Linked DNA regions of Homo sapiens: regions 2, 3, 4 and 5 are each linked to region 1. The links come from fine-mapping of genetic effects on plasma protein levels. A gene starts in region 1. Each other region holds a variant in brackets. All regions are shown on one strand. Distances are from middle to middle.

Region 1 (5,097 bases):
CACAGCCCATGCGGGAACGCTCAGAGATGCGTCACCTGTGAACACATCCCCTCCCCCAGGTCTAACCAACTTCAGCCACCCCAGCTCCAATAACGTCCCTATCAGCTAAGGCCGAATTTGGGAAGGGGGCCCACCTGGCTTGGGGTGCCTGCCTTCCACACTTCTCCCCACCTGCCCAGTGCTCAGGGCCCACCTCCCAGCAAGCTTGGGCAGTGGAGGAGGGGGATGGGGCGTTGGGGTAAGGGGCCAGCTTGGCCCTGTGGCTGGGCTGAGACGCCCCTTCCTCGGGCTTCTACAGTCTGTGCACTCAGGGCAGCCTGTGAACCACGAAATCAAGTTTGGGCAGTGCAGGGTGCCCCACCCTCCACCTTCTCAGCTCCTGGGGCCCTGAGGGCAGCTGCTCTGACGGTGGCCTGTGGTAAAGGCTACAGCCGACCTGGCGGCCCTCACGGGGACAGGGACCCACGCACTCACGCACTCCCCTGAGAACAAAGCCGGGAGAAGCAGCCCCTTCCTCAGATCTGGGGGGCTGGGGCTGCCGGATGGGGGGAGAGACAATGGTTGGCCTGTCCACTGCGCAGCCCCTGCTGGGAGCCTCAGGACTGCGGCATCCGCAGGGACCCCCTCCAGTTGCGCAGGCAGAGCCTCTTCCACGCCCCCCAACAGTAGGCTCCAGGAGGCAGATGACCCAGGCAGGGGGAGGGCCTGGTGGCTTTCATCGCCTTCCCCCACCCCAGCCACACCCAGGAGCAGCGGGGAGGAAGTCGGGAAAATCCTGCAGGGGCCTGGCAAAGTGCCCTGGCCGCTGTGGAGGAGACTGGGCCGGCGGGGGAGCCCAGCTGTAGCCCGCACCGGCCAGTCTGAAAGAAGCTGCCACCTTCTCCACCTCCGTGGAGGGAAATGAGTGGATTTCTGGTCCCAGGAGATGGTTTTGGGGGTACACGGGCGCCGGCTCTGGGTCCCCCGAGCCCCTACTAGGAGAAGATGGTGGGGGTCCCAGCGTACCTACCCCGGGGGCTCCCAGAAGCACCTGAAGGAGAAACCAGGGAAACTTCCCCTCCCCGGGGTGGGGAGCCCCGGTTCCCGCAGGAGCGCGATGGGGCACCGGCCCTGCCCCCAAGCACACGAGGCCCGGTGACGGCCCCGCCCACCTCTCTGCTCCTGCACGCCCCCCCCCCGCACCACTGCGGCACCCCCCACCTGGCTCCCGGGGTTGGGAGCTCAGGCTGTGCGCCCCTTTTTCTCTCCTGACCAACCCCTCTCGCCCCGGGAAAGGCCTCTGGGGAGGGGAACAAGCGGATCCCAGGCCCAGCCCCCGCTCCCCGCCCGGGCAAAGGCCCCCCCTCCCCAGGCCCCTCTCCTTCTCGGCCGGTAGGGAGGGCGCGCGGCAGCCGCAGTCCGTGGGCGAGGTGCACTTGTCTCCGCGAGGAGGGAGGCGGCGGCGGGCGGAGGACGGCGGCGGCGCAGCAACTTTCCCCGGCGCCCGCGAGTTTCCCGGGACCCGGCGACCCCCCCTCCCGGGGCTTGGCGGTCGCCAAGGGAGCCGGAGCGGGGGCTGCGGAGCGACCGGGGCTGGTTCCCACGGCCTGGGGCGGGGGTCCCGGCGGGGCGGCAGGCGTCGCGAGGGGAGGCCGGGGTCCGGGTGGGCGCACCTTGCAGGAGTACGTGTGCTGCACCGGGTCCACGTTGAGGATCTCCTCCACCGTCCCGGTGAGCACCACGTTCGCCTCCTCCTCGCGCCGCTCCAGCGCGCGCTCCGGGCATGTCCCGCCGGCTCCGGGCAGGACGCACGCGGCCACCACAAGGAGCGGCAGCAGCGGCCGCAGCGGGCCCGGGTGGGACCGGCCGGCCATGGCGCAGGCGAGAGGCGGCGGAGGAGCGCGCGGGCCGCGCCGGGGACGGGACTGGACAGGACGGGACGCAGCTCCGGAGGCGGCGGAGCGCGGGCGGGCGGGCGGGGGGGGGCGGGGCCAGGGCGGCGCCCCTCCCCCTCTCTCCTCCCCGCCCCCCTACCCCCTCCCCGCGCCCTCCTCCTCCCCCTCCTCCTTCCTTCCCCCTCCCGCCCCCTCCCTCCTCCCTCCCCCGGCCCGCCCGGAGGCCGGCGACCCGCGCCGCCGCGAACAAAGCCCCGGGACGCAGCGCCCGGCGCGGCCGTGGGGCGGGAAAGGGGCGGCCCGGGAGGGGGCGGGGAGAGGAGAGTGGGGGGCGGGTCTGGATCCCGCAGGCGCCCCTCCCCCGCCGCGGCCCCCCGGAAGTGCGGCTGCACCCGAGTTAATGCCTAATCTGGAGGAGACGTGACGGGACTGCCGAGGGGCTCCGGGCGGCGCGGAGCCGGGCGGCAGGGCTCGAAGGCCGCCGGGAGGGGCCCCAGACCCGGCCCCGATCCCGCTCCGCAGGCCGCGCCCCTCCCCCGCGGGGCCGGACACCGAGGCTCGGCCGGGCCGGACCCCCCGGGAGCTGCGGCGCGGAGGCGGGTCCCGGTGCCGGGGCGGGCGCTGATTGGCCAGCACGGGGCGCGGCCCCGCCCCTCCCGGCCCCGCCCCCCCAGGCCCCGCCGCGGGGAGGTTCGCGCCCCCTTCCGTCCCGCGGCTGCAAGCGCGGGTCCCGCCACGCCCCTTCCCAGCTCTGGGCCGGGCGCCTCTGCAGCTTGGCCTGGCTGGGTGCAGGGGGAAACTGAGGGCTGGAGGACCCAAGTGGGAGCCTGGCCTAGCTGAAGATTGAAAGGAGGGAGCGGAGGCCCCCTTTGTCCCTTCAGAACTGTGTCTAGGCTGGGCGTGGTGACTCACGCCTGTCATCCCAGCACTCTGGGAGGCGGAGGCAGCAAGATCTCTTGACACCGGGTGTTCGAGACTAGCCTGGGCAAAATAGCAAGACCCCATCTCTCAAAAAAATTAAAAATTAGCTGGATGGGCCGGGCGCAGTGGCTCACGCCTGTAATCCCAGCACTTTGGGAGGCTGAGGCAGGTGGATCACGGGAGGTCAGGAGTTCGAGACCAGCCTGGCCAACATGGTGAAACCCCGTCTCTACTAAAAATACAAAAATTGGCCGGTGTGGTGGCAGGCGCCTGTAGTCCTAGCTACTTGGGAGGCTGAGGCAGGAGAATCGCTTGAACCCAGGAGGCGGAGGTTGCAGTGAGCTGAGATGGTGCTGAGAGGTGACAGCGTGCTGGCAGTCCTCACAGCCCTCTCTCGGTCTTCACGCCTCCTCTGCCTGGGCTCCCACTTTGGTGGCACTTGAGGAGCCCTTCAGCCCACCGCTGCACTGTGGGAGCCCCTTTCTGGGCTGGCCAAGGCGGGAGCCGGCTCCCTCAGCTTGCAGGGAGGTGTGGAGGGAGAGGCATGAGCGGGAACCGGGGCTGCGCGCGGCTCTTGCGGGCCAGCTGGAGTTCCGAGTGGGCGTGGGCTTGGTGGGCCCCGCACTTGGAGCAGCCGGCCGGCCCTGCCGGCCCGGAGCAATGAGGGGCTTAGCACCCGGGCCAGCGGCTGCGGAGGGTGTAGTGGGTCCCCCAGCAGTGCCAGCCCACTGGCGCTGCACTCGATTACTCGCCAGGCCTTAGCTGCCTTCCGGCGGGGCAGAGCTGGGGACCTGCAGCCCACCATGCCTGAGCCTCCCACCCCCTCCGTGGGCTCCTGTGCGGCCCAAGCCTCCCCGATGAGCGCTGCCCCCTGCTCCACCGTGCCTAGTCCCATGACCACCCAAGGGCTGAGGAGTGCGGGTGCACAGCGCAGGACTGGCAGGCAGCTCCACTTGCAGCCCCAGTGCGGGATCCACTGGGTGAAGCCAGCTGGGCTCCTGAGTGGTGGAGACGTGGAGAACCTTTATGTCTAGCTCAGGGATTGTAAATACACCAATCAGCACCCTGTGTCTAGCTCAGAGTCTGTGAATGCACCAATAGACAGACACTCTGTATCTAGCTACTCTGGTGGGGCCTTGGAGAACCTTTATGTCTAGCTCAGGGATTGTAAATACACCAATCGGCACTCTGTATCTAGCTCAAGGTTTGTAAATACACCAATCAGCACCCTGTGTCTAGCTCAGGGTTTGTGAATGCGCCAGTGGACACTCTGTATCTAGCTACTCTGGTGAGACCTTGGAGAACATTTATGTCTAGCTCAGGGATTGTAAATACACCAATCGGCACTCTGTATCTAGCTCAAGGTTTGTAAATACACCAATCAGCGCCCTGTGTCTAGCTCAGGGTTTGTGAATGTGCCAGTGGACTCTGTATCTAGCTACTCTGGTGGGGCCTTGGAGAACCTTTGTGTGGATACTCTGTATCTAACTAATCTGGTGGGGACGTGGAGAACCTTTGTGTCTAGCTCAGGGATTGTAAATGCACCAATCAGCGCCCTGTCAAAACAGACCACTAGGCTCTACCCATCAGCAGGATGTGGGTGGGGCCAGATAAGAGAATAAAAGCAGGCTGCCGGTGCTAGCAGTGGCAACCCGGTCAGGTCCCCTTCCACACAGTGGAGGCTTTGTTCTTTCGCTCTTTGCAATAAATCTTGCTACTGCTCACTTTTTGGGTTCACACTGCTTTTATGAGCTGTAACACTCACCGCCAAGGTCTGCAGCTTCACTCCTGAAACCAGCGAGACCACGAGCCCACCGGGAGGAACAAAAAATCCAGACGCGCTGCCTTAAGAGCTGTAACACTCGCCGCCAAGGTCTGCAGCTTCACTCCTGAGCCAGCGAGACCACGAACCCACCAGAAGGAAGAAACTCCGAACATATCCGAACATCAGAAGGAACGAACTGAAGACGCGCCGACTTAAGAGCTGTAACACTCACCGCGAGGGTCCGTGGCTTCATTCTTGAAGTCAGTGAGACCAAGAACCCACCAATTCTGGACACAGTGCAACTGCACTCCAGCCTGGGTGACAGAGCGAGACTGTTTCAAAAAAAAAAAATTAGTCGACGGGCCGGGCGTGGTGGCTCAGGCCTGTAATCCCAGCACTTTGGGAGGCCGAGGTGGGCGGATCACTTGAGGTCAGTAGTTCGAGACCAGCCTGGCCAACATGGTGAAACTCTGTCTCTACTATAAATACAGACAGGGCACGGTAACTCACGCTTGTGATCCCAGCACTTTGGGCAGC
Region 2 (5,097 bases), 57 kb before region 1:
CCCCATAGCCTCAGCCTCCCCCCACGGAGTCCCCATAGCCTCAGCCTCCCCCCACGGAGTCCCCATAGCCTCAGCCTCCCCCCACGGAGTCCCCATAGCCTCAGCCTCCCCCCACGGAGTCCCCATAGCCTCAGCCTCCCCCCACGGAGTCCCCATAGCCTCAGCCTCCCCCCACGGAGTCCCCATAGCCTCAGCCTCCCCCCACGGAGTCCCCATAGCCTCAGCCTCCCCCCACGGAGTCCCCATAGCCTCAGCCTCCCCCCACGGAGTCCCCATAGCCTCAGCCTCCCCCCACGGAGTCCCCATAGCCTCAGCCTCCCCCCACGGAGTCCCCATAGCCTCAGCCTCCCCCCACGGAGTCCCCATAGCCTCAGCCACCCCTCACGGAGTCCCCATAGACGCAGCCTCCCCCCACGGAGTCCCCATAGCCTCAGCCTCCCCCCACGGAGTCCCCATAGCCTCAGCCTCCCCCCACGGAGTCCCCATAGCCTCAGCCTCCCCCCACGGAGTCCCCATAGCCTCAGCGTCCCCCCACGGAGTCCCCATAGCCTCAGCCTCCCCGCACGGAGTCCCCATAGCCTCAGCCTCCCCCAACGGAGTCCCCATAGCCTCAGCCTCCCCCAACGGAGTCCCCATAGACTCAGCCTCCCGGCACGGAGTCCCCATAGCCTCAGCCTCCCCCCACGGAGTCCCCGTAGCCTCAGCCTCCCCCCACGGAGTCCCCGTAGCCTCAGCCTCCCCCCACGGAGTCCCCGTAGCCTCAGCCTCCCCCCACGGAGTCCCCGTAGCCTCAGCCTCCCCCAACGGAGTCCCCGTAGCCTCAGCCTCCCCGCACGGAGTCCCCGTAGCCTCAGCCTCCCCCCACGGAGTCCCCGTAGCCTCAGCCTCCCCCCACGGAGTCCCCGTAGCCTCAGCCTCCCCCCACGGAGTCCCCGTAGCCTCAGCCTCCCCGCACGGAGTCCCCATAGCCTCAGCCTCCCCCAACGGAGTCCCCATAGCCTCAGCCTCCCCCAACGGAGTCCCCATAGCCTCAGCCTCCCCCAACGGAGTCCCCATAGACTCAGCCTCCCGGCACGGAGTCCCCATAGACTCAGCCTCCCGGCACGGAGTCCCCATAGACTCAGCCTCTCGGCACGGAGTCCCCATAGACTCAGCCTCCCCCCACGGAGTCCCCATAGCCTCAGCCTCCCCCCACGGAGTCCCCATAGCCTCAGCCTCCCCCCACGGAGTCCCCGTAGCCTCAGCCTCCCCCCACGGAGTCCCCGTAGCCTCAGCCTCCCCCCACGGAGTCCCCGTAGCCTCAGCCTCCCGGCACGGAGTCCCCGTAGCCTCAGCCTCCCGGCACAGAGTCCCCATAGACTCAGCCTCCCGGCACGGAGTCCCCATAGACTCAGCCTCCCGGCACGGAGTCCCCATAGCCTCAGCCTCCCGGCACGGAGTCCCCATAGCCTCAGCCACCCCGCACGGAGTCCCCATAGACTCAGCCTCCCCGCACGGAGTCCCCATAGACTCAGCCACCCCTCACGGAGTCCCCGTAGACTCAGCCTCCCCGCACGGAGTCCCCGTAGCCTCAGCCTCCCGGCACGGAGTCCCCGTAGCCTCAGCCTCCCCCCACGGAGTCCCCGTAGCCTCAGCCTCCCCCCACGGAGTCCCCGTAGCCTCAGCCTCCCCCCACGGAGTCCCCGTAGCCTCAGCCTCCCCCCACGGAGTCCCCGTAGCCTCAGCCTCCCCCCACGGAGTCCCCGTAGCCTCAGCCTCCCCCCACGGAGTCCCCGTAGCCTCAGCCTCCCCCCACGGAGTCCCCGTAGCCTCAGCCTCCCCCCACGGAGTCCCCGTAGCCTCAGCCTCCCCCCACGGAGTCCCCGTAGCCTCAGCCTCCCCCCACGGAGTCCCCGTAGCCTCAGCCTCCCCCCACGGAGTCCCCGTAGCCTCAGCCTCCCCCCACGGAGTCCCCGTAGCCTCAGCCTCCCCCCACGGAGTCCCCGTAGCCTCAGCCTCCCCCCACGGAGTCCCCGTAGCCTCAGCCTCCCCCCACGGAGTCCCCGTAGCCTCAGCCTCCCCCCACGGAGTCCCCGTAGCCTCAGCCTCCCCCCACGGAGTCCCCGTAGCCTCAGCCTCCCCCCACGGAGTCCCCGTAGCCTCAGCCACCCCCCACGGAGTCCCCGTAGCCTCACAGCCCTGCACGGAGTCACCATAGCCTCAGCCTGCCCCACGGAGTCCCCATAGCCTCAGCCTCCCGGCACGGAGTCCCCATAGCCTCAGCCTCCCCCCACGGAGTCCCCATAGACTCAGCCTCCCCCGACGGAGTCCCCATAGCCTCAGCCTCCCAGCACGGAGTCCCCGTAGCCTCAGCCTCCCCCCACGGAGTCCCCGTAGCCTCAGCCTCCCCCCACGGAGTCCCCGTAGCCTCAGCCTCCCCCCACGGAGTCCCCGTAGCCTCAGCCACCCCCCACGGAGTCCCCGTAGCCTCACAGCCCTGCACGGAGTCACCGTAGCCTCAGCCTGCCCCACGGAGTCCCCATAGCCTCAGCCTCCCGGCACGGAGTCCCCATAGCCTCAGCCTCCCCCCACGGAGTCCCCATAGACTCAGCCTCCCCCGATGGAGTCCCCATAGCCTCAGCCTCCCAGCACGGAGTCCCCATAACCTCAGCCTCCCCCCACGGAGTCCCCATAGCCTCAGCCTCCCGCCACGGAGTCCCCATAGCCTCAGCCTCCCGGCACGGAGTCCCCATAGCCTCAGCCTCCCCCCACGGAGTCCCCATAGCCTCAGCCTCCCCCCACAGAGTTCCCATAGCCTCAGCCACCCCGCACGGAGCCCCTCACAGAGCTCCCACCCCTCCCCAGCTCTTGAGTCCCCAGCCCTCCCTGTCTGAAAGCCCAGCCCCAGCCCGCGCCCCGCTCTCTGAGCATCCACCCCTCCCTGTCTGAGCACCCAAATCCGCTCTCTGAACCCCCC[T/C]AACCCCCGACTGAGAGTCCTCATGGAACTGGCAGGGGTCCCCCCAACCCCTGACTGAGAGTCCTCATGGAACTGGCAGGGGTCCCCCCAACCCCCGACTGAGAGTCCTCATGGAACTGGCAGGGGTCCGGCCCTTCCTGAGCCCAAGTCCCTGTGCTCCTCCTCGGGGTGTTGCCCCCTGGCCTCTGCAGTCCTGGTTCCCACTTCCCAGCATCCCTTGGGCTCCAGGATGCCCGCGGCAGCCCTGGGGGAGCCTCTGGGTCCCTACTGAGGGGTCGGCGGGCACCTGCATGGGAGTTGCCTGAGGGCAGTCTGTGGGGTGGCCCGGCCAGCTCTCCCACTAGGGTGGGTCCCTCACTCCCAGCCCCACCCAGTGTGGCACCCCCCCAGGCTGGTGTGTGGAGTCCCAGCTCAGGTCCGGCCCAGGCCTCATGGCGGGGATGGGGCTGTGGCAGCCGGGTCGGACCTCCCCTTGCATGAGGTCCACTGGGCTGGGAGAGAGACGCCTCAGTGAGGTGGGGAGCTGGCAGCTGGACAGCCTGGGGGTGCAGCTCTACACCAGGCCCTCGGGCCCACAGCGGGGTGTGCGGGGGACGGGGCAGCCCATGCCACTGGCTGCTCCTCTGAGACCCACACATCCTCCATCCCAGCCCTGCCAGCCTCAGCCCCCAGACTCTCAACCAGCTCCAGCCCTGGTCTTTGCACAGACCAGTCCTGTAGTCTGCTAGGGCATGTGGACATGGCATGTGTGTGTGTGTGGACACAGGGCACGTGTGTGAGAGCATGTGGACATGGCATGTGTGTGAGAGTGTGGACACGGCGTGTGAGTGTGGACACGGCGTGTGTGAGTGTGGACATGGCATATGTGAGCTTCCGGACACGGCACGTGTGTGAGAGCCTGTGGACACGGGGGCATAGAGCGTGTGAACACATGGCCCATGTGTGAGAGCAGCCACGTATGTGTATGGATGAGGCAGGTGAGCACATGGGTGGGTGTGGGCAGGGAAGTGGCAGGAATGGGCTGTGAGGGCAGGCAGCAGTGAGCAAAGGGCAGGGGCAGGCTGGGCATAGGTTGTGGGGGGCTCGGGGAGGGCCCCTGCTAGGAGGCCCACCCAGGAGCTCAGGGGCCACAGGGACCTGGAACTGCGGTGAGCAGCTTCCAGCAGGTGCTCCAGCCTCCTGGGGCTATAGGGAGAGAGGGCTTTGTCCAAGCACACACCCCAGCCCAGACCTGCCCAGGCTGCAGCGGCTGTGCTGACCCCTACCCGGCTCCGACCCTCACCCCTCCCTCCCTGCCCTCCAGCTGCCTGGCCCGCCAAGGAGAGGATGAAGCCAGCCAATCCCTGAGGCTTGCGGCCACACCCTTGGCCCATAGGGTATAAATAGACCTGCTTGGGAGCCCACACCCAGCAACTCACACCTGCCTCAGACCAGAGCTCTGTGCGGGTGACGGCGCACGCATTCCTTGTGTCCCCGCCTGTCTTGGACAGAGCAGAAGCCACACCTGCCAGACCAGTGCCACCGGGACAGCTGCTGGTGGCCGGCCCCGGGGAGGGATACCTGCTGGGTGAAGCACAGGCCGGGCCGGGCCCGGAGAAGAGGAAGCAGACACTGCCACGGCAGGGCAGCCCAGGGCCTTGGAGCCCAACCGTGGCCGGCGAGGAGGACCACGCCCAGGCCCGCTGACCCCCGGCCACCAGGTAAGGCCAGCTCAGCCCGTGTTCACCCCTTACCTGCACAGGCTCAGGGTGGGGCACCATCGTGGAGGGGTGGGGCCTCGTGCCAAGGAACCGGTTCTGTGGGGTACACAGGCCGCAGAGCACAGTCCCCAGGTCCCGGTGCCTGGGGCACTCACGGCCTCACAGTGACGGCGTGTGACTCAGGTGGTCACAGTGACCTGTGTCATCCCGCCAGCCTGTCTGGGACTCACTGGCAAGTCAGGGGTGGGGCGGGGCAGTGCCAGGAGTCACTTCTGGGGCAGCCTCCTGGGCCCCACGGGGACGCACGGCCAGGCCCTTGAGTCTCACTGTCACCCTTGCCCACTTCCCTCCAGGTGGGACCCCTGTGGCTCCCTGCAGCGGATCCTGGGTGCAGGGGAGGGGCGGGAGGTGGAGCAGGGTCCCAGGTCAGCTGAGATGCCC
Region 3 (5,097 bases), 84 kb before region 1:
TCCGTGCTCTTGTCGGCACGCATTTCACTTCTAGGTATGCTAGAAAATTCTACAACACACTTATTACTATTTTATTTATTTATCTATCTATTTATTTATTTATTTGTTTGTTTTTGAGACAGAGTCTCGCTCTGTAGCCCAGGCTGGAGTGCAGTGGTGCTATCTCGGCTCACCGCAAGCTCCACCTTCCCAGGTTCATGCTATTCTCCTGCCTCAGCCTCCCGAGTAGCTGGGACTACAGGCGCCCGCCCAGCTAATTTTTTTGTGTTTTAAGTAGAGACAGGGTTTCACCATGTTAGCCAGGATGGTCTCACTCTCCTGACCTCGTGATCCACCCACCTCGGCCTCCCAAAGTGCTAGGATTACAGGTGTGAGCCACCATGCGTGGTCCACACTTATTATTTTTACTTTAGTTAATAGTCTAATATTTAAGGGTATATTGTTTTTTAAATCCAATGCCTTTACTTTTTATTTATTTTTTTTTGAGATGGGGTCTTACTCTGTCATCCAGGCTAGGGTGTGGTGGCGCGATCTCGGCTCACTGCAGCCTCAACCTCCTGGACTCAAGCGATCCTCCCACCTCCCTCCCAAGTAGCTGGGATCACAGGCATGTGCCATCACGCCTGGCTGATTTCTGTAAGGGGTTTCGGTGTATTGCCCAGGCCGGTCTTAAAACTCCTGCCCTCAAGCGATCCTCCAGCCTCAGCCTTCCAAAGTGCTGGGATTACAGGTGTGAGCCACTGCTCCTGGCCTTTACTTCTTAAATTGAAAATTTCTATAAACTTTTACGGTAGTTGGCCAGACATACTGAACATATTTGTTGAGTGTTGCAGTTGAAAACCATCAGACTCCAGTTTATTCTGGAGCCAGAGGGCCTGGCCTGGGCCTAACCCTGCCGCCTACTCACAGTGTGGTCTTATGCAAGTCTTTTCCTCATATTTAAAGTGGGGCGATAAGGGGCATTGTTGAAATTAGTGAAATCAGTTTGTGTGTATAAATCCCTTCGCGTGGTGTCTGGCATGTGGCAAGTGCTCTGGAAGTGTTGATTGCTGCTGTTGTTGGACAGTGAACAGGTTTACATCCCTTGGAGACCCAGGATCTGTAGCACAAAAAGACTTATCCTTTCAGCCCATGTTCTCCAAGTTCCCTGCTGCCAAAGCTTTTTTTTTTTCCTTTGAGACAGGGCCTCGCTCTGTTGCCCAGGCTGGAGTGCAGGTGCGTTCCCGGCTCGACCAGCTTGAATGCGTCTGCACTTCGGCTTCGAACTCCTGGGCTCAAGCAGTCCTCTTGCATCAGCCTCCCAGGTAGCTGATATTCTAGGTGTGAGCCACCATGTCCAGACCATGCAGGCTTGTTACTGCCCAGAGTTGAGCACCTGGGAAGCAACACCAGCGCCCACCGTCTAGAAACTAAAATCGCCTTGGTTTCTGGACACAGAAAGCCGTATGATGGGGTTCTACTTCAGTGGGAAAGAGTAAACTTCTAACAGAGTGACCCTGCCATAGCACAACTATAACCATGGACAGAGTATGAAAAACAGCTCCCTGAGGGCTCTGGAGAGTGGCAGATTTTGGAGGGAAGTTTTGACTTGGAGGAAGCAACCAGCACAGTTTCCTGTTTTTGCATCTTTGCCCTGAGGGCAGCCACAGTCCCCACATGATAGTGTGGGGTGACTAACGCACTGATAGAAAGTCCACTGTCTGGGCCGGGTGCAGTGGCTCACGCCTGTGATCCCAGCACTTTGGGAGGCAGAGGCAGGTGGATCACGAGGTCAGGAGTTTGAGACCAGCCTGGCCAACATGCTGAAACCCCGTCTCTACTAAAAATACAAAAAATTAGCCAGGTGTGGTGGCAGGTGCCTGTAATCCCAGCTACTCGTGAGGCCGAGGCAGGAGAATCGCGTGAGCCTGGGAGGCAGAGGCTTCAGCGAGCTGAGATTGCGCCACTGCACTCCAGCCTGGGTGACAGAGCGAGACTCTGTCTCAGAAAAAAAAAAGTAAAAATTCTACTATCTGGCAGGGCAGCTCACTCCTGTAATCCCAGGATTTTGGGAGGCTGAGACGGAGAATTGCTTGAGGCCAGGCATTTGAGACCAGCCTGGACAACACAGTCTCTACAAAAGAAAAGGACGTTACCTGGGTGTAATGGTGTGCACCTGAGGTCCCAACTATTCAGGAGGCCGGGGTGAGAGGATCGCTGCCACTGCATTTCTGCCTGGGCGACAGAGGGAGAATGTGTCTCCAGAAAACAAACAAGCAAAAAAGAAAGTACGCTATCTTCCTTGTTCCAGGAGCAGGCAGGGGAAGGAGCTAGGCACCCATAGCTCCTCGAAAAAGAGAGTAGAAGCCCCAGAAAGAGCCAGAGGGGAGGAGTCCTGTGTATAGATGCCGCTCGTTTCTGGCAGACCCCTGACCCCTGCGTGCACCCTGTGCCATGCAGTGACCTGAGCCACCGCTCACCGCAGGTGTGACAGCGTTTGCAGTTTGAATCTAATGAAATTAATTGCCTGCTAAGTAGAAACATTGATTCTCTTCAGAGGAATATCACAGAATTCCAGTGTCTTCACAATGTAA[C/T]GTTTGCAATGTACAGGGTACAGTTCAAAATCACTCAACATATGAAGAGCCAGGAAAATGTGAGCCATTCTCGAAGGGAAAGACAACAGATATCAATTGTGTTATGACCTAGCTGTTGGAATAGTCAAAAAAGCACTTTGGAGCAGGTTTAGTGTCTGTGCTCAGTGAAGAAAAGGGAAATGCACGCATAATGAACAAAGTGCCGGAAATCTCAGCGAGGAAACATGTTTAAATGAGCCAAATGGGAATTTTAGGTCAAACAAACACAAGATCTGGCTGGGCGTGGTGGCTCACGCCTGTAATCCCAGCACTTTGGGAGGCTGAGGTAGGTGGATCACCTGCGGTCAGGAGTTCAAGACAAGCCTGACCAACATGGTGAAACCCCGTCTCTACTAAAAATACAAACAGCAACAACAAAAATTTAGCAGGGCTTGGTGGTGGTCGCCTGTAATCCCAGCTACTCGGGAGGCTGAGGCAAAGAATCACTTGAGCCCAGGAGGCAGAGGCTGCAGTGAGCCCAGATCATGCCACTGCACTCCAGCCTGGGGCTGGGGGACAAGAGTGAAACTCTTGTCTCAAAAAAAAACAAGATCTGAAATTTTATTTTATTTATTTATTTTTGAGACAGTTCTACTCTGTCACCCAGGCTGGAGTTCAGTGGCACGATCTCGTCTCACTGCAACTTCTGCCTCCCAGGTTCAAGTGATTCTCCTGCCTCAGCCTCCTGAGTAGCTGGGACTACAGGTGCCCACCACTACGCCTGGCAATTTTTTTTTTTTTTTTTTTTTTTTTTTTTTTTTTTAGTAGAGACAGGGTTTCGCTATGTTGGCCAGGCTTGTCTTGAACTGACCTCAGGTGATCCACCTACCTCAGCCTCTCAAGGTGCTGGGATTACAGGCGTGAGCCACTGTGCTTGGCCAAGATCTGAAATTTTAAAATTCACTGAATGAACATAACAGAAGGGAAATAACAGAGAAAATAGGCAGAGTCCTCAAAGACAGAGGAATAGAAATCATCCAAGCTGGAAAAAAAAAAAAGGGTGGAAGTGATTGGAGGAAAATAAAACAAAACCATGAACAGAGCCTCTGGGACCTGTAGGTGATATCTAAGCCTCAGGGACCTTAGGTGATATCAACATGTCTAACACATGGGTAATTACAGAGGTCCAGGAGAGGAGAGGCACAGTGGACAGAAGTACTTGAAGAAACAGTAACCAGAAACTTTCAAATTTGGTGAAAGACATAAATGTTTAGTTTTAAGAATCCCAAACAGGATAAATGAGAATAAAACCACACCTGGACCCATCACTTCAAAAGTTTGTTTTTTTTTTTTTTTTTTTTTTTTTGAGACAGAGTTTTGCTGTTGTCGCCCAGGCTGGAGTGCAGTGGTGCGATCTCGGCTCACTGCAACCTCTACCTCCCAGTTCAAGCGATTCTCCTGCCTCAGCCTCCCATGTAGCTGGGACTATATGCCCGTGCCACCATGCCCGATTAATTTTTGTATTTTTAGTAGATACGGGGTTTCTCCATGTTGGCCAGGCTAGTCTCGAACTCCTGACCTCAGGGGATCTGCCTGCCTCAGCTTCCTAAAGTGCTGGGATTACAGGTGTAAGCCACCACACCCAGCCCTAAAACTATTAAAAACTAAAGATTAACTTTAAAAATCTTGAAAGCAGCCAGAGAAAAACAACAGATCACACACAGCACAGCACTGTGAAGACTGAGCTGATAAACCATGAGCCAATAGACCGTGAGCCGACAGACTGTGAGCTGATTGATAGACCATGAGCCGACGGACCCTGAGCCAATAGACTGAGCTGATTGATAGATGTGAGCCAATGGACCCTGAGCCGATAGACCATGAGCTGACAGACCCTGAGCTGATAGACCATGAGCTGATAGACTGAGTCTGTGAGATTTAAAAAAAAATTTTTTTTTATACAGTCTTGCTCTGTTACCAAGGCTGGAGTGCAGTGGTACAGTCTCAGCTTACTGCAACCTCTGCCTCCTGGGTTCAAGCGATTCTTGTGTCTCAGCCTCCCAAGTAGCTGGGACTACAAGCGTGTGCTACCATGCTGAGCTAATTTTTGTATTTTTAGTAGAGATGGGGTTTTGCTATGTTGGCCAGGGTGGCATCAAACTCCTGGCCTCAAGTGACCCACCCACTTGGCCTCCCAAAGTGCTGGGATTACAGGCGTGAGCTGCCACGCCCGACCAAGTTTGTGAGTAATTATGGAGACCAGAAGAAAGTGGAACTGCTGAAAGAAAAAAAAAGCATAGAATTCTGTATTCTCTAAGAATAAACATTACATGAAAATATTTTCAGAAAAAGGAAAACTGATAAAATTTGTCACCATCAAATTGTGCTACCGGAAATGCTGAAGATAGTATATACTACAGTGAAACTCAGATCTTTAAGAATGAATGATGAACATCAAAATTAGTAAATATCTGGGGAAAAATTAAAACATCTCTTGGGTTTATAATGTATGCAGATATGACAGCCACAACGTGAAGAGTAGTAG
Region 4 (5,097 bases), 18 kb after region 1:
CCTTTTGGGGACACTGGCTGTGGTCATGGAGTGCGGCCACAGTGGCCCAATGTGAGGAGACCCCCCAACAAGGCTGAGGCCCCCCCAGGTCCAGCCTAGAAGACACCCCGGTTTTCCCCACAGTCTCCCCACTGGCGTGTGAATGTCCTCATCAGTCACCCCCCTTAGCTAACAGGGGGCTGTGCAGATGCCCCGGGGCCACCCGCCATTTGGAGCTTGACCCACTCAGGGCCAGGAGGTCGGCTGGATTTCAGTGGCTCCCAAGAAGCACCCGTTAGATGGGGGGGAGGGGTGGGGAAGTCGCTGAGCCTCTGCCTCTGTGGAAGAGAGGAAGGGATCAGCGAGGAGGGAGCAGGGGTGAGGAGGGAAGGGTCACTCTCCCTGGGTCAGGGCCCCAGCCCACCTCCACTATTCCAGTCTTGAGTGCCGCACCACAAACCACCCCAAAACAGCACGCTCAGCAACCACCCTACTGTGTGCGGGCAGCCTTGGAACGGGGCGCGCTGGGACCTGCGCCGGAAGCTGCTCAGGAGTCTGGAATCCAATGCTGATTCCTCCACGGGGCCTCTCCTTGAGGCCAGGGCGTGCTCCCTCCCAGCACGGCAGCTGGGTTCCAAGAGCGACTGTCCCAGGACAGCGAGGTACGCATGGCGTCTTCCAAGTCAGCCTCAGAAGTCATGTCCTGCCAAACACCCCATTCTTCCCAGCTGAGACTGTCACAGAGTCTCATGTAGAAGGCATTTCAAGATATGGGGATGGGAGATACTATCACGGCCGTCTCTGAAAAACGCAACCTGCCCCCAACCCAGGTGTCGGCACCATCCTGGGCTGCAGCCCAGGATCCACCCCCACACTCAGAGCAAGGGAACCCCAAGGCCCTCAGGAACCCTGAGGCCCCTACCACAAATCGAGGCCAGATTCGAGAGGCAGGGAGGGGACCATCAGAGGCCAAGGGCACAGACCCAGAGAGACAGACACACAGATGGGAGCTGTCCTGTGGCAAAGAAGGTGGGAGGAACACAGTCCCCGGAGATCCTGGAGTGGGCTCCCTGGCAGGGGGCAGGGAGCAGGGGGGTCTCTTCCTCTCCAGAAGAGCAGAGGCAAGTGCTGGTGGCCCCTCCTGCCTCTGCTCAGCAAGGACCCCAGCTGCTGCCCAGGGGCAGGAACCCTGGCAGATGGGCGTGGGTGCTCACTATGAGTTGGACGCCGTCAGTGGCTTTAAAAGTAGAATCTCCTGGCCAGGCACGGTGGCTCACACCTGTAATCCCAGCACTTTGGGAGGCTGAGGTGCGTGGATCACCTGAGGTGGGGAGTTTGAGACCAGCCTGACCAACATGGAGAAACTACATCTCTACTAAAAATACAAAAATTAGCCAGGTGTGGCGGCACACGCCTGTAATCCCAGCTACTCCAGAGGCTGAGGCAGGAGAATCGCTTGAATACAGGAAGCAGAGGTTGTGGTGAGCCCAGATCGTGCCACTGCACTCCAGCCTGAGCGACAAGAGTGAAACTCCGTCTCAAAAAAGAAAAAAAAAAAGTAGAATCTCCTATTAAGACCAGCCTGGCCAACACAGTGAAACCCCATCTCTACTAAAAATACAAAACACTAGCCGGGCGTGGTGGTACATGCTTGTAATCCCAGCTACTTGGGAGGCTGAGGCAGGAGAATCGCTTGAACCCGGGAGGCAAAGGTTGTGGTGCCACTGCACTCCAGCCTGGGCAACAGAGCGAGACGCTGCCTCAAAAAAAAAAAAAAAAAAAAGTTAGCTCCCTTTTACAGATGAGAAAACAGGTACAAGGAGGGGAAGTGAGCCCATCTAAAAACCAGTGAGGGAATGATCAGTCCCAGCCACGCTTGGCAGGGAGGAGACTCACGCCTGTAGTCCCAGCACGTTGGGAGGCCGAGGCAGGAGCATCGTCTCGGGCCAGGAGTTCGAGACCAGCCTGGGCAACATAGGGAGATCCCCATCTCTACAAAAAAAAAATAAATAAAAACGATCCTCAGGCTCCTCCTTCCATCCCGAACTCCCTGCCTGTCTAGGGACTGGGGGAGGCCCAGAGCCCCCCCAAATTTCTTCCCAAGCCGGGGCCCAGGGGCTGGGGAGATTCAGGCCGGCAGCTCCCCTGGGATGACCCCCAGCAGGAGGCGGCGGCGACTGCGGCCACTGGGGGCGCTCGCGGGCTTTCCCGCCCGGGCCCAGCGCTCAGGCCGGGGAGGGACGCGGGACGGGGACACCATCCACACCACCTCCTGGGCTACGGGGCCGGTCCGAGCCTCTCCAGCGCCGAGGCGCGCGCAGAGAGGTC[G/C]GGGCAGGAGAGCCGGGGCTTAAGTGCTCGCGGGGCCACCTCCGAGACGCCCGCCCAGCCCCCGCGGCTTTCCCCAGTCGGCGAGGGGCGCGGACAGCCTCTCGGCGGAGAGGGCGCCACCCCCGCTCCGGCCTCGCAGCCCCCCGCGCCCCTGTGCAAGCGGCGGGGTGTGGGGGGCGCCTCAGGGGCACCGCGGAGGGCCGGGGTCAGCGCCGCGAAGAGGGCGCCTTCCCGCGTGGGCCGCAGGACTTTGCTTGGGGCCAGATTAGACGTGGGGTCCGAGGGGAGGGGAAGCTTCCGCACAGAAACCCTGGGTCCAGGTGCCCGGGCAGGGGCGAACCTGCCAATCAGCCGACTCCCTGGCTCAGAAAAGCTCCCCAAAAAGTTCCCCGACTCCCTCCCCGACCAGAAGCTCCCGGTTCTCGCTGGCCCAGCTCCCCCTCCCCACCTCCCTCGTCCCTGCGCCCCCTTCGCACCCTGGGAATGCCACGCCCTCCCTTGAGGCTTCCCCCCTGAGGACCCCCCACCCCGCAGAAGCCTTTGGGACCACCCGGCGTCAAGAAGGCTTTTGTCCACCCAGGCCACCCACCTAATTCGGTTCTCTTACGTGACTGCTGAGTCTGCCATCTGCCTCCTGCCCGGATTGAAAGCCCGGGAGGGTCTCCACACCCGGGCCCAGGCCAGGCTCTCCAGGGGGCTCAGGAAGCCTCCGCTGCACGGACGCGTGAGGCCGCCGGGGACCCCGAGTGCGGAAAGGACCAACGTGCCCCGCAGCGGCATTCGAAATAAAAACAGCAAACACGAAAATAACCACAGCCCTGTTTTACGCAACCTGCCCCTTTGCAGTTATATTAACAGTGGCCCCTCATTTTTCTGTGAGCCCCACTTTGCTGCTGCTGAGTTCGCCAGCGGGTCACCTGGAAGCACGTGGCGACACGGGCCACATGACGTCATCCCAGCAGGCTTGCGTCATCGCCCCGGGTGCCTGGTGACGTCACCAGCCCGCTCGCGTCACGCGCACGTTCTGCTCCTCGTGGTCCGGCCCGGCCCGCGCCATCACCGGCCCTGCTCTGCGGGGCCACCCGTGCGCCCCTTCGCCGTCCGCTGACTCCGCCCTCCCGCCTGCCGACCCGGCCGCCGACCTTCCCCCGGCTCTGTCGCTCCCAAGGCTTTCTGCAGCCCTCCGTGCTCCAGGCCGCACACCTGAGGGTGGGACCCCCGGAGGCCGAGCCGGTGTCGGATCAAACTCGGAGACCGAGCAGGGCCCAAACCGGGACCGGAGTGGGGACGGGCGGAGGAAGCCAAGAGGCTCGAGACCGAGGCTCGCCCACCCCTCGGCGCCGCCGGACCCTGCGCCACTGGGGGAATTTCCTTCCCGACTTCCCGCGCGGCCACAGCCCCAGCTCCGTCCAGCCCCGGCTCCCGGCCCCCTGGGCGGGAGAGTGAGCCCCGAGACTCCGCCCAGCCCCGGGGGTCCCGGGCCCCGTTCGCCCCCAGCGGCCCCTCCCGGCGCGTTGCTCGGCCCCGGCTGCATCGGGGAGCGCGGGATCACCCGGCCCTGTCCCCAGCGGTGTCGGAGGGGGGCGCGGGCGGGGGCCCCGCATGCCATTGTCGCCCGCGGAGGCCGCGCCCGGAGCCGAGGCGTGACTGACAGCGAGCGGGGGAGGAGCGCGGCCGTCGATTGGCTGGGGCGAGTGTGGGAAAGAATGCGGAGCCGGGTTCACACACCCCGCGGCGGCGAGGCCTTAAATAGGGAAACGGCCTGAGGCGCGCGCGGGCCTGGAGCCGGGATCCGCCCTAGGGGCTCGGATCGCCGCGCGCTCGCCGCTCGCCCGCCAGCCCGCCCGTGGTCCGTGGCGGCGCGCTCCACCCGGCACGGGGAGGCGCGGGGCGCACCATGGCCGCAGACACGCCGGGGAAACCGAGCGCCTCGCCGATGGCAGGAGCGCCGGCCAGCGCCAGCCGGACCCCAGACAAGCCCCGGAGCGCGGCCGAGCACCGCAAGGTGGGGTCCCGGCCGGGCGTGAGGGGGGCGACCGGGGGGCGGGAGGGACGCGGGACTCAGCCGGTGCCCGACCCGCAGTCCTCCAAGCCGGTCATGGAGAAGCGGCGCCGAGCGCGTATTAACGAGAGCCTCGCTCAGCTCAAAACCCTCATCCTGGACGCCCTCAGAAAAGAGGTAAGTCGGGGGCGAAGGCCCGAGACCCGGAGTCTGGGTCGCAGCTGACCTGGACCTCCCGCCTATCCCCGCCCCCAGAGCTCCCGCCACTCGAAGCTGGAGAAGGCGGACATCCTGGAGATGACCGTGAGACACCTGCGGAGCCTGCGTCGCGTGCAGGTGACGGGTGAGGCGCGGGCGGCGGCGGCTTGGAGGCGGGGGGAGGGCGCGGGACCCCCGGGACCCGGCACCGACCTCTCCTCCTGTGTCGCTCCCGCAGCCGCGCTCAGCGCCGACCCCGCCGTTCTGGGCAAGTACCGCGCCGGCTTCCACGAGTGTCTGGCGGAGGTGAACCGCTTCCTGGCCGGCTGCGAGGGCGTCCCGGCCGACGTGCGCTCCCGCCTGCTGGGCCACCTGGCAGCCTGCCTGCGCCAGCTGGGACCCTCCCGCCGCCCGGCCTCGCTGTCCCCGGCTGCCCCCGCAGAGGCCCCAGCGCCCGAGGTCTACGCGGGCCGCCCGCTGCTGCCATCGCTCGGCGGCCCCTTCCCTCTGCTCGCGCCGCCGCTGCTGCCGGGTCTGACCCGGGCGCTGCCCGCCGCCCCCAGGGCGGGGCCGCAGGGCCCGGGTGGGCC
Region 5 (5,097 bases), 14 kb before region 1:
TCAGGGCCCTCCCCCAGCTCAGCCTTCCCTGCAAGCTCCTGTCCACTTCCAGCCTCTGTCCAGCCCCACCCCTTGCTGAACAGGGAGAAGGGAGGACAATAGAGCGGAGCCCCCTGACCGGACTCTGGCCCTGCCCTACAGGTCTGACATCACCTCACAACCTGTGGGTCCCAGGACTTGTTCCCAGTTTTGAGGCTGAGGGGGCTGAGGCCCAGAGAAGTGAGAGCCGAGGTCCAGTGCCGTCAGGCGGCGGCCTCTAGACCCCGAGTTCCTACTGCGGCCCACCGCTGCGGACTCCCAGGACAGACGCAGGTGCCCTTGTCCAGCCTCCTCCTCACTCCAGACACACTCCACACGTCTGGGTGCACACCTCCAAATGGCCCCTGACTCCCAAGAGTGCCACAGCCCATCCAGGTCCCCCGAACTCAGCCCTACTCACCATCAGGAGGCGTCGGAGGCACTGGAGTGAAGTGGGTCCCGGGTTTATCTGGAAGAAAACAAATCCCCAAGTTAGGCTCCTCTGAGCAGGCTCCTCCCTGTCCCATCCCTTTGCCCAGCCTGGAAAGGGGCACCCCTGCCCACCCCCCCCCCCCCACCGCTAGCCCCAGGGATCCAGGCTGCTGAAGGGTCCAGCCCTGACCCCATGGGCTGGCTGAGGTCTGAGACAGAGGCCCCTGCTTTTCTCTGCCCCTCCAGCCAAATAGTCATGGCCTGACCCCTGTCAGATGGGGCCCCAGCCACAGGGGTGCAGGCAGGACCCCCTTCCCTGGAAGAGTCCACCGCAGGTCCTGCCCTACCCCCAACTGCCGGCTCTCAGTGTAGCCGGCTGCCCCTCCCTCCCCAGCTCCCGCAGAAAGTGTTTCTGCAGCTTTGGGTGAGGGCCAGGCCCACTGAGAGCCCAAGGACGGCCTCCAGGGACCGAGGGGTCCGCAGAGTGACCCATCCCATCCCCGGGAAGCTGCCGGGAGCCCCGCGGACCCGCCGCGGCCTCCAGCCTCTATGTGCAGGGGCCTCGGGGTTGGGGCTTGGCCAGTGCGACGCCCCGCCCGCGGCCACCTACAGTTGTTGAGGAACAGCAGCACCGCGAAGCCGAGCGTGGCGGTGGCCAGCAGGATCAGGCAGGCGTTGCAGGGCACCATGAAGCCTCGCACCAGCAGGGAGGCGCCAGGCGGCTGCCGGGTGTCCCGCGCCAGCGGCAGCGGAGGCATGGCCCGGGGCTCCGGCTCTGCGCCCCACTCTCAGAGCGTGGGGGCTCCTCACGGGGTGCCCTTGGGCCTCTTCAGGGCTGCTCGCCCCATCCTGGGACCCCTGGGGCGGCGGACAGCAGCTGTGCCCTCAGAGTTCACCCAGTCACAGCCCTGGGGGTGCCAGGTCCCGGCTCCAGTCCTCCAGGCTCATCGTGGGAGGAGGGCAGAATTCTCCCGGAGTAGAAATCCCAAATGTGGGCTCCGAGGTAGGCGGAGGAGGGACTGGGAGCCCGCAGCCACCCCTGCTGCCCACAGCCTCCCCGGGCTGGCCGCCAGCGCTCGGTCTTCCCGGAGCCCCCGGAGCCGCGCAGGCCGGAGAGGCGGTGCGCGCGGCAGGTGCGCGGGGGCCGGGCGCCGAGGGTCTGCTGTCCCCGTCCCCGGCAGAGGCGGAAGCGGCGATAGGAGCGGGCAGGCAGGAGGGGCGGCCGCGTCGGGAGCGAGAAGAAAGCGCCGCCTGCGGAGGCCGCGCCGGGTCCCGGGCTCCCTCCAGCTCCCCTCGTCCCCGCGGGGCTGGGGAGGTGAGTGAGGGGCGAAGACGCCGCGGAGGGAGGGCGGGAGCAGAGACAAAGGAAGCCGCCTCCAGGGACCCCGGCGTCCGCGGGGAGTTCCAGAGGATCGGGCGGATGCGGACGGGAGAGCGCCGCACAAAAGGGAACGCCGGGCAGGCGGGGCCGGGGGTGCTCGGCTGGGGCTGGGGCTGGGGCTGGGCCCGGGGCCGGGAGCGCTGGGGCTGGGGCTGGGCCGGGACTGGGGCTGGGGTGGCTGAGGCTGGGGCCGAGGGTGGGCCTGAAGGTGTTGGGACTGGGGGTGGGACTGGGGCTGGGCCTGGGGGCGCTGAGGCTGAAGCTGGGGCCGGGGGTGGGACTGGGGGCGCTGGGGCTGGGCCGGGGGTGGGACTGAGGCTGCGGGCGTTCAACTGGGATTGAGTCGAGGGCAGCGGTGGGGCTGGGCCGGGGGAGCAGGGGTCGCGCCGGGCAGCGTCGCGTGCTGGAGCGGAGGCGGGTGCGGCCGGGGCAGGTCGCGGGAGGAGGAAGCGCCTGGGGAGCAGGAGCTGGGCCGGGCGGGTCCGCGCCCCGCACCCGCGGGGGTGAATCGGAGTCGCCGCAGGGGGCTCGGGGGGCCGCGTGCGACCGCGTGTGCGCGTCGTCGTGCGTGTGCCCGCGAGTGTCTGCGCCCGCGGCCCCGCCCTGGCGGGGCGTAGGTGGGGGAGGGCCCCAGGTGCGGCGCGAGCTGGAGGGTGGAGTGAGGTGAGCGGCCCAGAAATCGCCTCGCCCACTTTCCCCTGGGGATTGACAGTGGCTCCTCCAGTCGCCGGCGCCCCCGACTCCCGCGCGGGGCGGGGTCATGCAAATGAGCCCCATGCAAATTGCGGCGGGGACTCCCTGCGGGTCCGTGGGGCTGGAACGCCCCCAAGAGGCCGTTCCGGGAACGTCCGGGCCCTGACGTCACTGCGGCCCGGGGCGGGGAATGGGGGTCTGGGCCCATCTGGGACTCCTGACGCGTAGTCCGGCGTCCCCACACCCGCCCCCGTAGGTCGCCCCTCTCCCTGGCCGCTGCCCAGCCGGGGGATCCGGGGGTAAGGGAGGGGCCCGTCCGGTCCGGTGTGTGCACCATCCCCTAGAGTCCATGCCAGGCCCGACCACCCTGGAGGCCAGAATCTCTCGGCGACC[G/T]CACCTCAGCGCCCCCGCACACCCCTGGCCACCCGCAGCCTTTGGAAGGGACCCCTGCGCACCCATTACCCTGCCCTCTCCTCTGTCCCTGCAATGACCGACCCCATTCCCCAAGCCCCAGCTCCAGGAAAGCAAGGACCCGGCGCCAGGGCGCTTCTGCTCCGCCAGTCCCCTCCAGCACCGCGGACCAAGCCATCTGCCACACTCGGTCTCACCCACTCTGCAGACGACAGCTGCCGGCAGCCACCAGTGCCACCGCGTGGTCACACCCAGGCCTCACCTCAGTCCACCCCAGAGGACCCACTGCCCACACCTGCTGCCTTCCTGGAGTCCCCCAGCCGGGTGTCTGGGCCCCTCAACCCCATGGCCTCCATCTGGACTCTCCCCAACGCCTCCTTCCTTCCAGGTGCCCTGTCTCACCTCCTGGTCAGGCTCCTCCAAGGGCCCCAGCCAAATCCCACCAACCCCACCTTAGCTGGGAAGGTCCTGTCTTGCCAGCTCCCTCTCTTGGGACTCCTTTCCACCCCACAGCCAGGGACCAGCACCATGCCCCATCACCCAGACAGGAGGCCTCCACATCTCTACGGCCCTGGAACCTGGTGTTCCAATGAAACCCTGCAGGAAAATCCAAACTCAGCCAAGGGTTCTCACCCACCCCAAGCCACGTCCCATCCAGAGCAGCTGTCAAAGGAAGCACTTGGAGACCCACCCCTGCTGGCCTCACTCTCTCCTCAGGGGAGCTCCTACCCCAACCACCCCACCCTGCTGGACCTTGGCACTGTCCACACCAGGCTGACAGTGTTCCGGCGGTGCTGACTGTGGGTGCCCCGGGCAGGGTCTGACTTTTTATCTCCCCAGCGCAGGGTGTGACCCAGGGATGAGAAAACCCAGAACAGGACTTGCTGTGTGCAGAGGCAGGTGGTTCACATGCATTCCCCATTTCTCACCTCCCAGCTCTGAGTCCCAGGGGCAGTGCCAGGGTCAAACCCAGGCCGTGCTACCAGGTCACGCGCCAGCCCGCCTGCTGCCACCACCTTCAGCCATGGGATCTCTGGGCGGGCTCTGCAGGAGGAGGACAGGTACCACAATGTGGGAGGGGTGGGGGAGCCCCAGGTACGGGCTGGCAGAGGGGGCCTCAAACACTGCCTGGGAAGTTTGCCCCCACACAGAGAGACCCTGGGATCTGCCAGCAAAGGGGGCCCAACAAGCTGAAAGTCACGTGGGGGGCCTGGCTGCCCCAGGCCGACACTGGAATGAGGCTTAGGGCCCCTTGGGCTGGGCCAGGGGAAGGGGAACCAGGCAGGCAGCCTGGCCCCACCCAGCCCCAGTCAGTGTCTGAGCCCCCCACAGAGGCCCAGATGCCTTCAGAAAGACAAAGGGCCATTGAGGCCCCAGGCCCAGCCAGGGAGGGAGCTCAGGCGACATGAGCTATTTTGGGATCTTCAGACAAAATCATTCAGCCCTGACCAGCCCACGCAGGCTCATGTGCAGGAAAGAGTACTAGCCCCCTGGTCCCTGATCTCACACTCACAGCACCATGCACCGCACACACATACACACACATGCTGATCTCACACTCAGCACCATGCACTGCACACACACAGACATGCTGATACACTCACAGCACCATGCACTGCACACACACATGCTGATCTCACACTCAGCACCATGCACTGCACACACACAATCTCACACAGCACCATGCACTGCACACACACACATCTCACACAGCACCATGCACCGCACACACACACACACAATCACACTCACAGCACCATGCACTGCACACACACACATGCTGATACACTCACAGCACCATGCACTGCACACACACATGCTGATCTCACACTCAGCACCATGCACTGCACACACACACACATGCTGATCTCACACAGCACCATGCACTGCACACACACACACGCTGATCTCACAGCACCATGCACTGCACACACACACATGCTGATCTCACACAGCACCATGCACTGCACACACACACACGCTGATCTCACAGCACCATGCACTGCACACACACATGCTGATCTCACAGCACCATGCACTGCACACACACACACACACACATGCTGATCTCACAGCACCATGCGCTGCACACACACACACACACATGCTGATCTCACACAGCACCATGCACTGCACACACACACACTGATCTCACAGCACCA

Direction of the effects. Positions count from the first base shown, and alleles are read on the strand shown. Strength reflects both the effect of a copy and how common the allele is.
For the plasma level of the protein whose gene starts at base 1,906 in region 1, T is the low allele of the variant in region 2 and C is the other (weak association).
In carriers of allele T in region 3, the plasma level of the protein whose gene starts at base 1,906 in region 1 tends to be lower than with C alone (weak association).
In carriers of allele G in region 4, the plasma level of the protein whose gene starts at base 1,906 in region 1 tends to be higher than with C alone (weak association).
As copies of G replace T in region 5, the plasma level of the protein whose gene starts at base 1,906 in region 1 goes up (strong association).

The links. PIP is the chance, under the fine-mapping model, that this variant and not a neighbour inherited with it causes the effect. The UK Biobank Pharma Proteomics Project read protein levels with antibody pairs (Olink). The fine-mapping took linkage between variants from a reference panel, not from the people measured, so its PIPs are less certain.
Region 2: its variant is fine-mapped to the plasma level of the AGRN protein (UK Biobank, PIP above 0.99).
Region 3: its variant is fine-mapped to the plasma level of the AGRN protein (UK Biobank, PIP above 0.99).
Region 4: its variant is fine-mapped to the plasma level of the AGRN protein (UK Biobank, PIP 0.92).
Region 5: its variant is fine-mapped to the plasma level of the AGRN protein (UK Biobank, PIP 0.98).

What each region holds. Positions count from the first base shown.
Region 1 is chr1:1,016,929-1,022,025 of GRCh38, reverse strand. AGRN (agrin) reads right to left here and starts at 1,906. Exons shown (of 36, transcript NM_198576.4): 1 at 1,653-1,906. The coding sequence starts at 1,853. RefSeq lists an enhancer at 1-634 and a silencer at 2,143-2,592.
Region 2 is chr1:1,073,575-1,078,671 of GRCh38, reverse strand. RNF223 (ring finger protein 223) reads left to right here and starts at 4,366. Exons shown (of 2, transcript NM_001205252.2): 1 at 4,366-4,656. RefSeq lists an enhancer at 4,174-4,673. The variant T/C (reference allele first, on the strand shown) is at 2,957.
Region 3 is chr1:1,100,893-1,105,989 of GRCh38, reverse strand. All of the region lies in intron 1 of C1orf159 (chromosome 1 open reading frame 159), which reads left to right. Among named protein-coding and RNA genes, the nearest start is that of C1orf159, 13 kb to the left of the region's middle. The variant C/T (reference allele first, on the strand shown) is at 2,574.
Region 4 is chr1:999,081-1,004,177 of GRCh38, reverse strand. HES4 (hes family bHLH transcription factor 4) reads left to right here and starts at 4,081. Exons shown (of 4, transcript NM_021170.4): 1 at 4,081-4,312; 2 at 4,391-4,486; 3 at 4,565-4,652; 4 at 4,746-5,097. The coding sequence starts at 4,205. RefSeq lists an enhancer at 1,899-2,038 and silencers at 2,089-2,438, 3,516-3,565, 3,666-4,045, 4,116-4,255, 4,806-5,097. The variant G/C (reference allele first, on the strand shown) is at 2,308.
Region 5 is chr1:1,030,667-1,035,763 of GRCh38, reverse strand. It overlaps AGRN (agrin), which reads right to left. Exons shown (of 36, transcript NM_198576.4): 3 at 440-487. Among named protein-coding and RNA genes, the nearest start is that of AGRN, 13 kb to the right of the region's middle. RefSeq lists silencers at 1,642-1,791, 2,207-2,516, 2,436-2,556, 2,537-2,676, 2,737-2,916 and enhancers at 2,430-3,299, 5,040-5,097. The variant G/T (reference allele first, on the strand shown) is at 2,918.